3 linked regions of the Homo sapiens genome follow. The protein of the gene in region 1 purifies or fractionates together with the protein of each later gene. This does not show direct contact. Each region holds a gene or a part of one and is shown on either strand. Other genes may lie near its edges. The genes, in order: RNF14, LEF1 and GCN1.

The links.
Region 2: the proteins of RNF14 (region 1) and LEF1 purify together in Homo sapiens (affinity purification with western blotting, with the first as the bait; one study listed by BioGRID). This does not show direct contact.
Region 3: the proteins of RNF14 (region 1) and GCN1 purify together in Homo sapiens (affinity purification with western blotting; one study listed by BioGRID). This does not show direct contact.

The regions. Positions count from the first base shown.
Region 1 is NC_000005.10:141,979,003-141,982,656, reverse strand, and holds part of RNF14 (E3 ubiquitin-protein ligase RNF14), read right to left. Parts: intron 2,535-3,654; coding exon 2,306-2,534; intron 1-2,305. UniProt on the Homo sapiens protein: E3 ubiquitin-protein ligase that plays a key role in the RNF14-RNF25 translation quality control pathway, a pathway that takes place when a ribosome has stalled during translation, and which promotes ubiquitination and degradation of translation factors on stalled ribosomes.
Region 2 is NC_000004.12:108,088,846-108,092,499, forward strand, and holds part of LEF1 (lymphoid enhancer-binding factor 1), read right to left. Parts: intron 413-3,654; coding exon 280-412; intron 1-279. UniProt on the Homo sapiens protein: Transcription factor that binds DNA in a sequence-specific manner. Participates in the Wnt signaling pathway. Activates transcription of target genes in the presence of CTNNB1 and EP300.
Region 3 is NC_000012.12:120,188,062-120,191,715, reverse strand, and holds part of GCN1 (stalled ribosome sensor GCN1), read left to right. Parts: intron 1-1,315; coding exon 1,316-1,418; intron 1,419-3,654. UniProt on the Homo sapiens protein: Ribosome collision sensor that plays a key role in the RNF14-RNF25 translation quality control pathway, a pathway that takes place when a ribosome has stalled during translation, and which promotes ubiquitination and degradation of translation factors on stalled ribosomes.

The sequences.
Region 1 (3,654 bases):
ATCTGGCTTCTACTGCTCTATCATTTAACTGAAATGGAACAGGTAACCAATCCCAAAGGTTTTACTTGCAGACAAAAGGCTTTTGTTCACAGTTGTATTACCTTAATTTTTCAATACAATTAATTAAAGAGTTTTCTCAACAATGTTCTAGTTATTTTATCAGTTTACTTTCCTCACATTATTTGGAAGTCTATCTCCCTTTTAAAGCAAAAGACATCTTCTGGTATAGAATCCTATATCCTATCTCCACTCTTTGCTTTCACCTGTGAATTCTTTCTCTGTGTAGTACATTCCCACAGCTTCATCACCTCTACTTCAATGTAGCAGTGAAGCAATGTAAATCTCATCCCTCTAATAATTCAATGCATTTTTGTGTTCCTAGGCATCTTAAGGACAAAGGTTATATTGCTTTAGTCTTCCCAAAATAATAAAATTGTATTTCATATTTTATATAATATATACATACAAAGAGAGGGAGAGATTCCTAATTTTGCTAAAGCCCTGAATCTATCTTCAATTTCTTCCCTGAATGCTGTGAAACACTTGAAATGTACTGTTGACTTTTAATGAAAAGGTTACAGAAGTCTAAAGTAAAGGCTTATATTATACATTGCTAAGTTCTCCATTCCATCTGGCCTTACCTTCTGCAAGGTGCTGCCTGAGGCAACTGAAATTATCTACCCACTCTTTCCTCTCATGGTACTTTCTTGGAAATAATGACAGTCTGCTAACATTAGCAAGTAATAACTACAATAATAATAGCATTAATAATTACTATTTTTCTTTTTCCTCTTTTTTTTTTTTTGAGACAGGGTCCCACTCTGTCCCCCAGGCTGGAGTGCAGTGGTGCAATCTGGCTCACTGCAGCCTCTACCTCCCAGTTTCAAGCGATCCTCCCGCCTCAGCAACCTGAGTGGCTGAGACTACAGATGTGCACCACCACACCTCGTTAATTTTTGTATTTTTTTGTAGACACGGGGTTTTGCCATAGTGTCAAACTCTTGGACTCAAGCAATCCGCCCACCTTGGCCTCCCAAAGTGCTGAGATTACAGAGGTGAGCCACTATGCCCAGCCCCATTCTGCATTTTACATGTATTAGCCCACTGTTTCTCAAACTATTTATGGTAAAGGCCCAGTTTATTTTTTCTCTGATACGTCAAAGATCAACACTTTTATAAGATATAACCAGGTTTGCTTGATTTAATTTTTTTAGAAGCAGAGTCTCACTACGTTGCCCAAGCTAGTCTCAACTGAGGCTCAAAAGATCCTCCTGCTGTAGCCTTCTGAATAGCTAGAACTACAGGTGTGCACCACCACAGTCAGCTAACAATCAATTATTAGAAAAATGAAAAAAAGTCTAAATTTTTATTAGATTTGACATAAAATTATGTGAAATCACTATAAAAGTTTCTAACCCTCTCAATTTCTATATATTATACACCAGTGTAACAAATATAACAATTTTGAATAGCATGATATTCGTTCCCTTCATCCTTAGAATAACCCCGTGAAGTTATTGTTATCTGCTCTAGCTGCAATTTTGTGAGGTAGCTGTTATCATTATCCCTGTTAGTCTGAAGAAGACTAAGCCACCAAAGTCCAATTAAATCGACGTTAAGGGCCTGATTTATGATTCCTTACGTAGACTGGAAACGGCAAACACATTTCACTCCTGTGTCTACTTCATCAGAGGGTAGCTTTCCGAAGTGCCATGTTGAGGAAGATTCTGAGGCCTCTCTGGGCTCAAGGAGAAAGCATTTGATGACTAGTCAAACACATGTGCCATGGAGACAAGAATGGCAGCTTAGATGCCCTGCATTGGCCATCCAGGATCTACATTATTCCATGTTTGTATATAGAATTTCCTGTGCCATTCCTTCTCCTGGAATGTTCCTCCCTGGTATCTGCACGGTTTTTCTTACCTCCTTCAAGTCCTTACTTAAACCATTTTGCCGGTGAGGCCTCCCCTGTTTTCCCTAACTAAAATCCCAAGTCCCCTCCCCTTCAGAACATTTCATATCCTGTCCTTGCTTTATTTCTTCTGCCTCTTCAGCACTTACCACCACCTAATATCCTTATTTTGTTTTCCTGTCTCCCCTGGTAGAATGTGAGTTCCATGAGGGCAGACATTTTGTCTCTTCTGGTCACTACTACAGCCCCAAGGCCTGAGATAGTCACTGACACAGAAATATCTGCTAAATGAATACTTCCAAATTGAAGAATGAAGTCATAAGGCCCTGGTAGTAGAGTGAAATGTGAGGGAGAGACTGGGGATGGGGGTTTGGGTTCACAGTTAAAACATACCTGCAGTCACCTTACATGGGGAGACCCCATGGTAGGTCAACCTGCACAAAGTACAGAAGGCAAAATTGCAGCTGGAGCAGATACCCATGGTGCAGCCAGGTTCCTGCATCACAGGCAGCTGGCAGCACGGCCGGGGGCAGTACACCACATCTGCCATCAGGTCCAAGGAGGACTGGAGGAGAAGGCGGTCATAACGGGCAAATAACTCTGCTTCCACTAACTCTTTGACCTGGAGGGAAATACAAAACACCATAGGTTTGATGATTCCACAACCAGTTCTGAACCTGAGGCGATTCTTAGGATGCTAGTGTAAACCAGATGGGCACATAAATTAAAACCTCTCTTTCACTTCAAAATCAAACCAAGTACATTTTGACTGAGATGACAATTATAGGGGTCTACACATTTGTTAAAACTAAGCAAAGTGTCCAATTTATTTTATATTTTAGTTTTATTTCTTTAGAGATGGGGTCTTACTCTGTCGTACAGACTGGAGTGCAGTGGTGCAATCATAGCTCACTGCAGCCTTGAACTCCTGGGCTCAAATGATTCTCTACCTCAGCTTCCCAAGTAGCTAGGGCAACAGGCACTTGCCATCATGCCTGATTTTTTTTTTTTAAGACATGGAGTCATGCTATTTTGCACAGGCTGGTTTTAAACCCCTAGCCTCAAGCGATCCTCCTATCTTGGCCTCCCAAAGTGCTGGGATTATAGGTGTAAGCTACCATGCTAGCCTTGTATGATTTAAATGTGTAGTTTATTTTAAGTAAAATTATGCTTTAATAAGAAAACAAAAAACTGGCCAGGAGCAGTGGCTCACGCCTGTAATCCCAACACTTTGGGAGGCCAAAGCGGGAGGATCACTTGAGGTCAGGAGTTCAAGACCAGCCTGGCCAACGTGGTGAAACCCCGTCTCTACTAAAAATACAAAAAAAATTAGCCGGGCATGGTGGCGGGTGCCTGTAATCCCAGCTACTTGGGAGGCTGAGGCAGGAAATCACTTGAACCTTGGAGGCAGAGGTTGCCGTGAGCTGAGATCATGCCCCTGCACTCCATCCTGGGTGACACAGCAAGACTCCATCTCAAACAAAACAACAACAACAACAACAACAACAACACCACCACCACCTAAGTAGGCTGTACTTCTGCTGAAGTCTATAAAAAAGTTGGTTAATCATTCTAAGAGACGTCCCCTTCAGATGCCAACCTCACACAAGAATAAGCTAGTGATTCCCCAAGGTTTATGGGATCCTACTAGCAGATATACAAAGTAAATTATCACAATTACTTAATAACTACTTTAACACTCATCCTTGCCCACTGCAAGGCCAAAGGAAGCATTCCATTTG
Region 2 (3,654 bases), on another chromosome or scaffold:
ATTTGCACAATCTATTGGTTTACATTGTGAATGAAAGATTTTCATTCATTGTGGCCCTGCTATGCTTTTCTTCTGCTTTTTAATAATGCATAATAAATGTAACAGATTCTTGTGTGTTTCCAAAGAATTGCTATCAAATGAATTACTCTTGTCTTGTAAAAACACATTCTGATCCACCCAGTGACATGGAGCACTGGCATCTGGAAGGTCACTCAGGCTGATGAGATTTGGCTCTTCATTTGGCAAAAAAAAAGGGCCTGGAAAGACAGGGACTCTCACCTTGTTTGGAGTTGACATCTGATGGGATGTGTGACGGGTGTGATCCTGGAGAAAAGTGCTCGTCACTGTAAGTGATGAGGGGGGTGAGAGGATGGACCGCATGGGATGGCTGCACCACGGGCACTTTATTTGACTGCAAAGTAACCACAAGGTCAATAGTTAATATGGATGCCCAGCTCCAGTCTTTTCTCCCAAAGAAAAAAATTCACACAGCAGCAGTAACCAGTCATCAACATAACCCAAGAATCACCTTCAGACCTGGACAGGTGGAAATGTCTCTTTTAGAATTTTTCTGAATTTTTCCATGGTAAATACTTCTCAAATATATGAATATGTCACTGATATTCATGAGTTATCAGTTATTTCACCAGTGACTCTTCAGGGATTTAGGTTGATCACTACTCTTCCATATGGCATGAATTTCTGTACATATATATTTATACTCTCTTTTAGATTATTTCCTCAGGTTAAGTCAATAAAGAGCGAATTACAGCAAAATTTATGAATGTTTTACAACATTTGTATTCACTACATATGTCTGGCACAAAAAGCAAAAAACTGTCCAATGAGCAAATAAATGAATAAATATTGCCAATTCAAAGGATAAATTTTTAAACCCAATAAATATAAATTTCCTATACTGATATCCCCTCAGCTTACAGAGTTCATAACTCTATGTTGTACATCTTTAAGAACCATGGTACACCATTCTTTCGAGTTTTATAGCTTTGTCAATCAAACAAGACTAGCCATTATGCTTTGGCCCTCCTCAGTTCATCTTCTGCTTCTCTAGTTTCCATAAACATTAATTGATAAAAAGGAATTTCCAATCTTGAGTTGAACTGCATAATATGAAATACTGTCTTTTTTTTTTGAGATGGAGTTTCACTGTGTCGCCCAGGCTGGAGTGCAGTGGTGTGATCTTGGCTCACTGCAACCTCCACCTTCCGGGTTCAAGTGATTCTCCTGCCTCAGCCTCCCAAGTAGGACTACAGGCACCCGCCACCACATTCAGCTAATTTTTTTTGTATTTTTAGTAAAGACAGGGTTTCACTATATTGGCCAGGCTGGTTTTGAACTCCTGACTTTGTGATCTGCCCACTTTGGCCTCCCAAAGTGCTGGGATTATAGGCATGAGCCACCGTGTCCAGCTGAAATACTGCTTTAATAATATTTTTAATTGTTAAAATTGTATATTTTAACACACTTTATATGTCTTATACTTGTTTACAGACATTTTATTATTTAATTTGGAAGTCAACAGTCACACTTTTTAATTCAAGTTATCTAATTGGACTTCATCAATTTGAAATCTGTGATTACTTTGGTTACAAAGTTAAGGTTGTTCCCCCCAACCCAAAAGTGCTTACTAAGTAATTAAAAAATATAAAGAAGACTTAAGTAGGTTTAACCTAATTAGTAAAATCACTTATTTATTTATTATTTATTTTTTATTGATATGGCATAGCTGTAGAAATTTTGTGGTATATGTGATATTCTGATACCTGTATAAAAGGTGGAATGATCAAGTTAGGATAACTGGGATATCCATCACCTCAAACATTATCTTTCCTTTGTGTTGTGAACATTAAAATTCTTCCCTTCTAGCTATTAAATAATCTATTGTTAGCTACAGTTTCTCTACTGTACATACTACAACTTATTCCTTCTATCTAACCGTATTTTTATACCCATTAACAACTTCTCTAGGGGAATCATTTTAAAGAGACTCAATAAACCCTTCACCAAAGAAAAAGGGACTCAACACAATTATATACCTGTTAAAGGTGTTTGTTTCTGATTTTAAACTAATCTAATAATTAAAGCAGTTGCAGGAAAATCTCTACTTAAAAACACTATAGTAATGGGTAACATGAATTTAAGAGAAAATTGAGCATATCATTATGCTCAATTCACTAGTTCAGACATGTCTTCATCATAATTAGTTTGAATTAGTAAGATCTTACTATATTATTGACTAAAATGCATGTGAAATCAGTTTTCTCCTGAAGCAAATATTCATATTTTTTAAAAATTTGAGGAAGTGCCTAAAACTGCACAATGTGAACTGCTTAAAATGTAAGTCCATATCTGAATGGTTAAAGAGGGCCCCCAAAACACACTTGTGTATGGTGGCTGTACCTACGACATACACTAATTTTGAACTTAATATTTTTTACAAATTAGCCATAAAAAATATGTGGCTCCAATGAGAAGGACTCCCCTTAGAAAAATTAGAATTCTTATACCCTATCTTATAAGAAAAATTAGTAATTCTTCTTATACCCTATCATTACAACCTCCATCCAAAAGAAACTTACGGGGGGGGGAAAAAAAAGGAAAAAAAAATCACACTTTTTTTGGAAAATGATATAATTTCCATACTAGATTTTCCCTATTTTATAATTATCAGCTCTTCTTTAATGGCAAAACTTGCATAGCTCATATAGCTTTTTTGGCGTATATTAAATAGAGTGCCATTATCATAGCCACACAATTTTTCTCTACACACCTCAGCACAAACATCTATGCATATAAATGTGTAAAAGGTTAAACAAATCTTCTAATGCTTTTCGAGTGTTAATGACACAGTTTTCCAAATAACAGAATAAGCTTCTTAAATACATGGAATTTAGAATGCTAGAAGTGGGGGTGGGTAGATGTGAGGATAGGAGGAGTTTATTATGAACTCTTTTGAAAATGGAAACACAAATCTCAACGCCCAAATGTTAAAATCGATAGATTTCAAATATACTTTAGAATAATGGCTTTCAGTTTCATTTTAAAAGTCTCATAAATAAGCATAATTGCCAAACAATCTACAAAGATATTTTCTTAGGGTACTTATAAAGAGTAAACACTGTGGAAATCTTCTGGATATATTCTTTCTTTCCAGAGCACCACCTTAAGGAACTTGCATTAGCAGGCAGCATCTTCTTAATGTCTGACCTATCCCTCCAGTCATATAGCTCAGAATCTGGTGCCATGAATTTTTGCTAAATTATGCTATCCTTGCTCTCCTCTTAATTTTACGGTTTTCAACACAGATTTGCTTTCCTGTGGGAAAGAGATAAGAAGCCGAGGATTTTAATTTAAGCCTGGCCTTGTCTTATATTTTGCAAGATGGATAGCGAAAGCAGTACTAGTAGGTGTGTTAAAGCCAACAAGGATTATGTCCATTTTTGTGGCCAAATAATAAAAGTAATATGAAATTTCAATAGCATGTGTGAGCAGAATTCCAAGGGTTATGGTTTGCTTCCTGCCAACCATCTCCACTATGTATATAAACAGAACAAAGTGGATTCCAACTTACACTGCGGATATGTGGCACATCATCATCACAGTCAAGATTCCTCAGCCCAAAAATCTGCAGGC
Region 3 (3,654 bases), on another chromosome or scaffold:
TATAAAAACAAAAGACATTTTAAAGTTAAAACTACATTATTTATGTAGAAGACAGTTTTGGACATCAGTTTCTTTTATTCATTGCCAATAGAATTATGGCAGGGATTTAAGCACGAAAAACTCAGCATTATTTTATTTCTGTGTGTACGCTTGACTCTTACGCTACTGATAAGGCCTGCCTTTGAAATACCCTCAAAAGAAAAACATGATAACCCCACTGTGTTAAGTTACATGAGCCTTATCATGCCCTGCTCTACGGCTTATGAATCCACAACCTGTCCACTTGGTAGCTTGTAGAATATTGCTCAAGAGCAGATTTTCAGGGATGTTTGCAAACTGCCCCCCATCACTGGGTCTTATGCTTATGTCCCTATGCAGGGGACTGCAGCTGTGGTAACTCGATGGCTGTTGAAAGCTAAAGATTTGTTAGCATCAGTTTATAGACCTGTTTGGTTTCAAAGTTAGTTTCAAAAACGCAGGTGCTGTGGCTCTCGACCCCACTCTGAGCAGTGACTTCCTCTCTTGGAGATGGTTTCTTCATCGCCTATAAAATGGGGATACTGATGCCTCCCTTGCAGGCTTTTTGGTAGTAGTAGCCAACTTTTTGCTTGGGATGAGAGTAGATGCACCTTATACGCAATCTCATTTAAGCTCCATAACAGTCATATGAGGTAGCTGCTATTGTCCGCATCTTATAGATGAGAAAACTGAAGATTGGGGGAGTGACATTATTTGACTAAGTTTCTACAGCTAGTAAAAGGCAGAGCTGGGATCCAATCTCCTAACCTTTCCCCCTTTAGCCAGTGTGCTTATCCTCTGCCAGTGAGTTGCCAGGATGCTGACATTCCCTTTATGGGGAGGTTAAAGTGAGATAATGTAAAGGGAACATAGTTGGCACGTACCAGGCCCTTGCTAGATTTTGGGTAGTTCTGAAGGGATATTTTCTTTTCAGAGGTCTTTGCCTTTCCTCTTATTGCCAAAGTTTAAATAAGGTATATTGATTTGTTGACTAGTTGAATTAAAGCAGTACATCTCAAGTGGGAGTGATTTTGCCTGCCAGGAGACATTTGACAATGTCACAACTGGGGCGGGTGGGGAAGGTGGGCTGCTACTGACATCGAGTGGGTAGAGACCTGGAATGCTGCTAAAAACACGGCCCCCACAACCAGAATTACCCGGTGCAAAATGTCACCAGTGGGGAGGTTGAGAAACCCCAGGTTAGAGAGATCCCCAAATTCTACACCCACCCCTCAACACACACACTCATAGTTTTATAGTCTGACTAGTGAATTTTTCTGTTGCTTGGCCTTCACAGGTTTCCGAGACACTAAAGCGTTTTGCAGGGAAGGTGACAACAGCCAGTGTAAAGGAACGGAGAGAAATCCTCAGTGAACTTGGGAAGTGTGTTGCTGGAAAAGGTATTTATTTTTCATCCACATACCCTGGACAATATTCATTGTTTTTCTTTCTTTCTTTTTTTTTTTTTTTTTTGAGACAGAGTCTCTCACTGTTGCCCTGGCTGAAGTGCAATGGCACGATCTCAGCTCATTGCAACCTCCACCTCCTGGGTTCAAGCGATTTTCCTGCCCTCAGCCTCCCGAGTAGCTGGGATTACAGGTGCCCATATCATGCCTGCCTAATTTTTGTATTTTTAGTAGAGATGGGGTTTCTCGAATGACAGTGTTCCATATCAAAAATAAATTTTGTGGTTTTTTTTGTGTTTTTTTCTTCTTTTTGAGACAGAGTCTCACGATGTCACCCAGGCTGGAGTGCAGTGGCACGCTCTCGGCTCACTACAACCTCTGCCTCGCTGGGTTCAGGCGATTCTCATGCCTTAGCCTCTCCAGTAGCTGGGATTACAGGTGTGCGCCACCACACCCAGCTAATTTTCGTGTTTTTAGTAGAGATGGGGTTTCACCATGTTGGCCAGGCTGGTCCTGAACTCCTGATCTTAAGTGATCCGCCTGCCTCAGCCTCTCAAAATGCCGGGGTTACAGGCACGAGCCACTGGGCCCAGCTGAAATTGCCTTTCTTTAGAACCATGGCCTTGGCCAGGCACGGTGGCTCACGCCTGTAATCCCAGCACTTTGGGAGGCTGAGGTCAACAGATCACAAGGTCAGGAGTTTGAGACCATCCTGGCCAACATGGTGAAACCCCGTCTCTATTAAAAAAAAAAGTACAAAAATTAGCCAGGTGTGGTGGTGTGCACCTGTAATCCCAGCTACTAGGGAGGCTGAGGCAGGAGAATTGCTTGAACCTGGGAGGTGGAGGTTGCAGTGAGCCGAGATTATGCCACTGCACTCTAGCCTGGGCAACAGAGTGAGACTCAAAAAAAAAAAAAAAAGCCTGGGTGTGGTGGCTCACGCCTGTAATCCCAACAGTTTGGGAGGCCGAGGCGAGTGGATCACGAGGTCAGGAGTTCGAGACCAGCCTGACCAACATGGTGAAACCCTGTCTCTACTGAAAACACAAAAATTAGCTGAGCATGGTGACGCACGCCTGTAATCCTAGCTACTCAGGAGGCTGAGGCAGGAGAATCGCTTCAACCTGGGAGGCAGTGGAGGTTGCAGTGAGCTGAGATCGTGCTACTGCACTCCAGCCTGGGCGACAGAGCAAGACTCCGTCTCAAATAAAAAAGGAACCATGGCCTTCTTCCCCCCTCCCTGCACAACTTCTGCCTTTACTTTATTTCCTTGCTATAGTGTGAATTGCAACAGTTAAAACTTTTGGGTTCATGGAGAGTTTATCCATTCAGGTGTGAAAGCTATTTACACTTTTAACCATTTTGTTTGGAAATATTTAAAAAAGATAGCTAAAACCTTTCTCAAGTAGTATACAGAGTACAAAAACTTTTTTTTTTTTTTTTGAGACGGAGTCTCACTGTGTTGCCCAGGCTGGAGTGCAGTGGCATGATCTCAGCTCACTGCACGCTCTGCTTCCCGGGTTCATATCATTCTTCTGCCTCAGCCTCTGGAGTAGCTGGGACTACAGGTGCCCACCACCACACCTGTCTAATTTTTTGTATATTTAGTAGAGACAGGGTTTCACCGTGTTAGCCAGGATGGTCTCGATCTCCTGACCTTGTGATCCTCCCAAAGTGCTGGAATTACAGGTGTGAGCCACCGCGCCCAGCCAAAAACATTTTTTTTATGACTTGGGATATCATTTTTCCCAATCTGTGTTCCGTGGAAGTCAGCACCATGGTAGTAGGTGATTGGCCAATAAAGGATTCCAAGATCAAATAAGTTGGGAGAGGTTTTTTTTTTTTTTTTTTCTTTGGTGAGACAGAGTCTCCCTCTGTCACCCAGGCTGGAGTGCTGTGGCGCGACCTCTGCTCACTGCAACCTCCGCCTCCCGGGTTCAAGTGATTCTCCTGCCTCAGCCTCCCAAGTAGCTGGGATTACAGGCACCTGCTACCACGCCCAGCTAATATTTGTATTTTTAGTAGAGATGGGGTTTCACCATGTTGGCCAGTCTGGTCTTGAACTCCTGATCTCAGGTTATCCGCCTGCCTTGGCCTCCCAAAGTGCTGGGATTACAGGCGTCAGCCACCATGCCCAGCCTAGAGGTCATGTTTTTGATGTCCTCTTGGAATATTCGCAACAAGGTGTTTTCACTTTATTAAGCTTCCTTGGATTCAGTGTTTTCTTTGA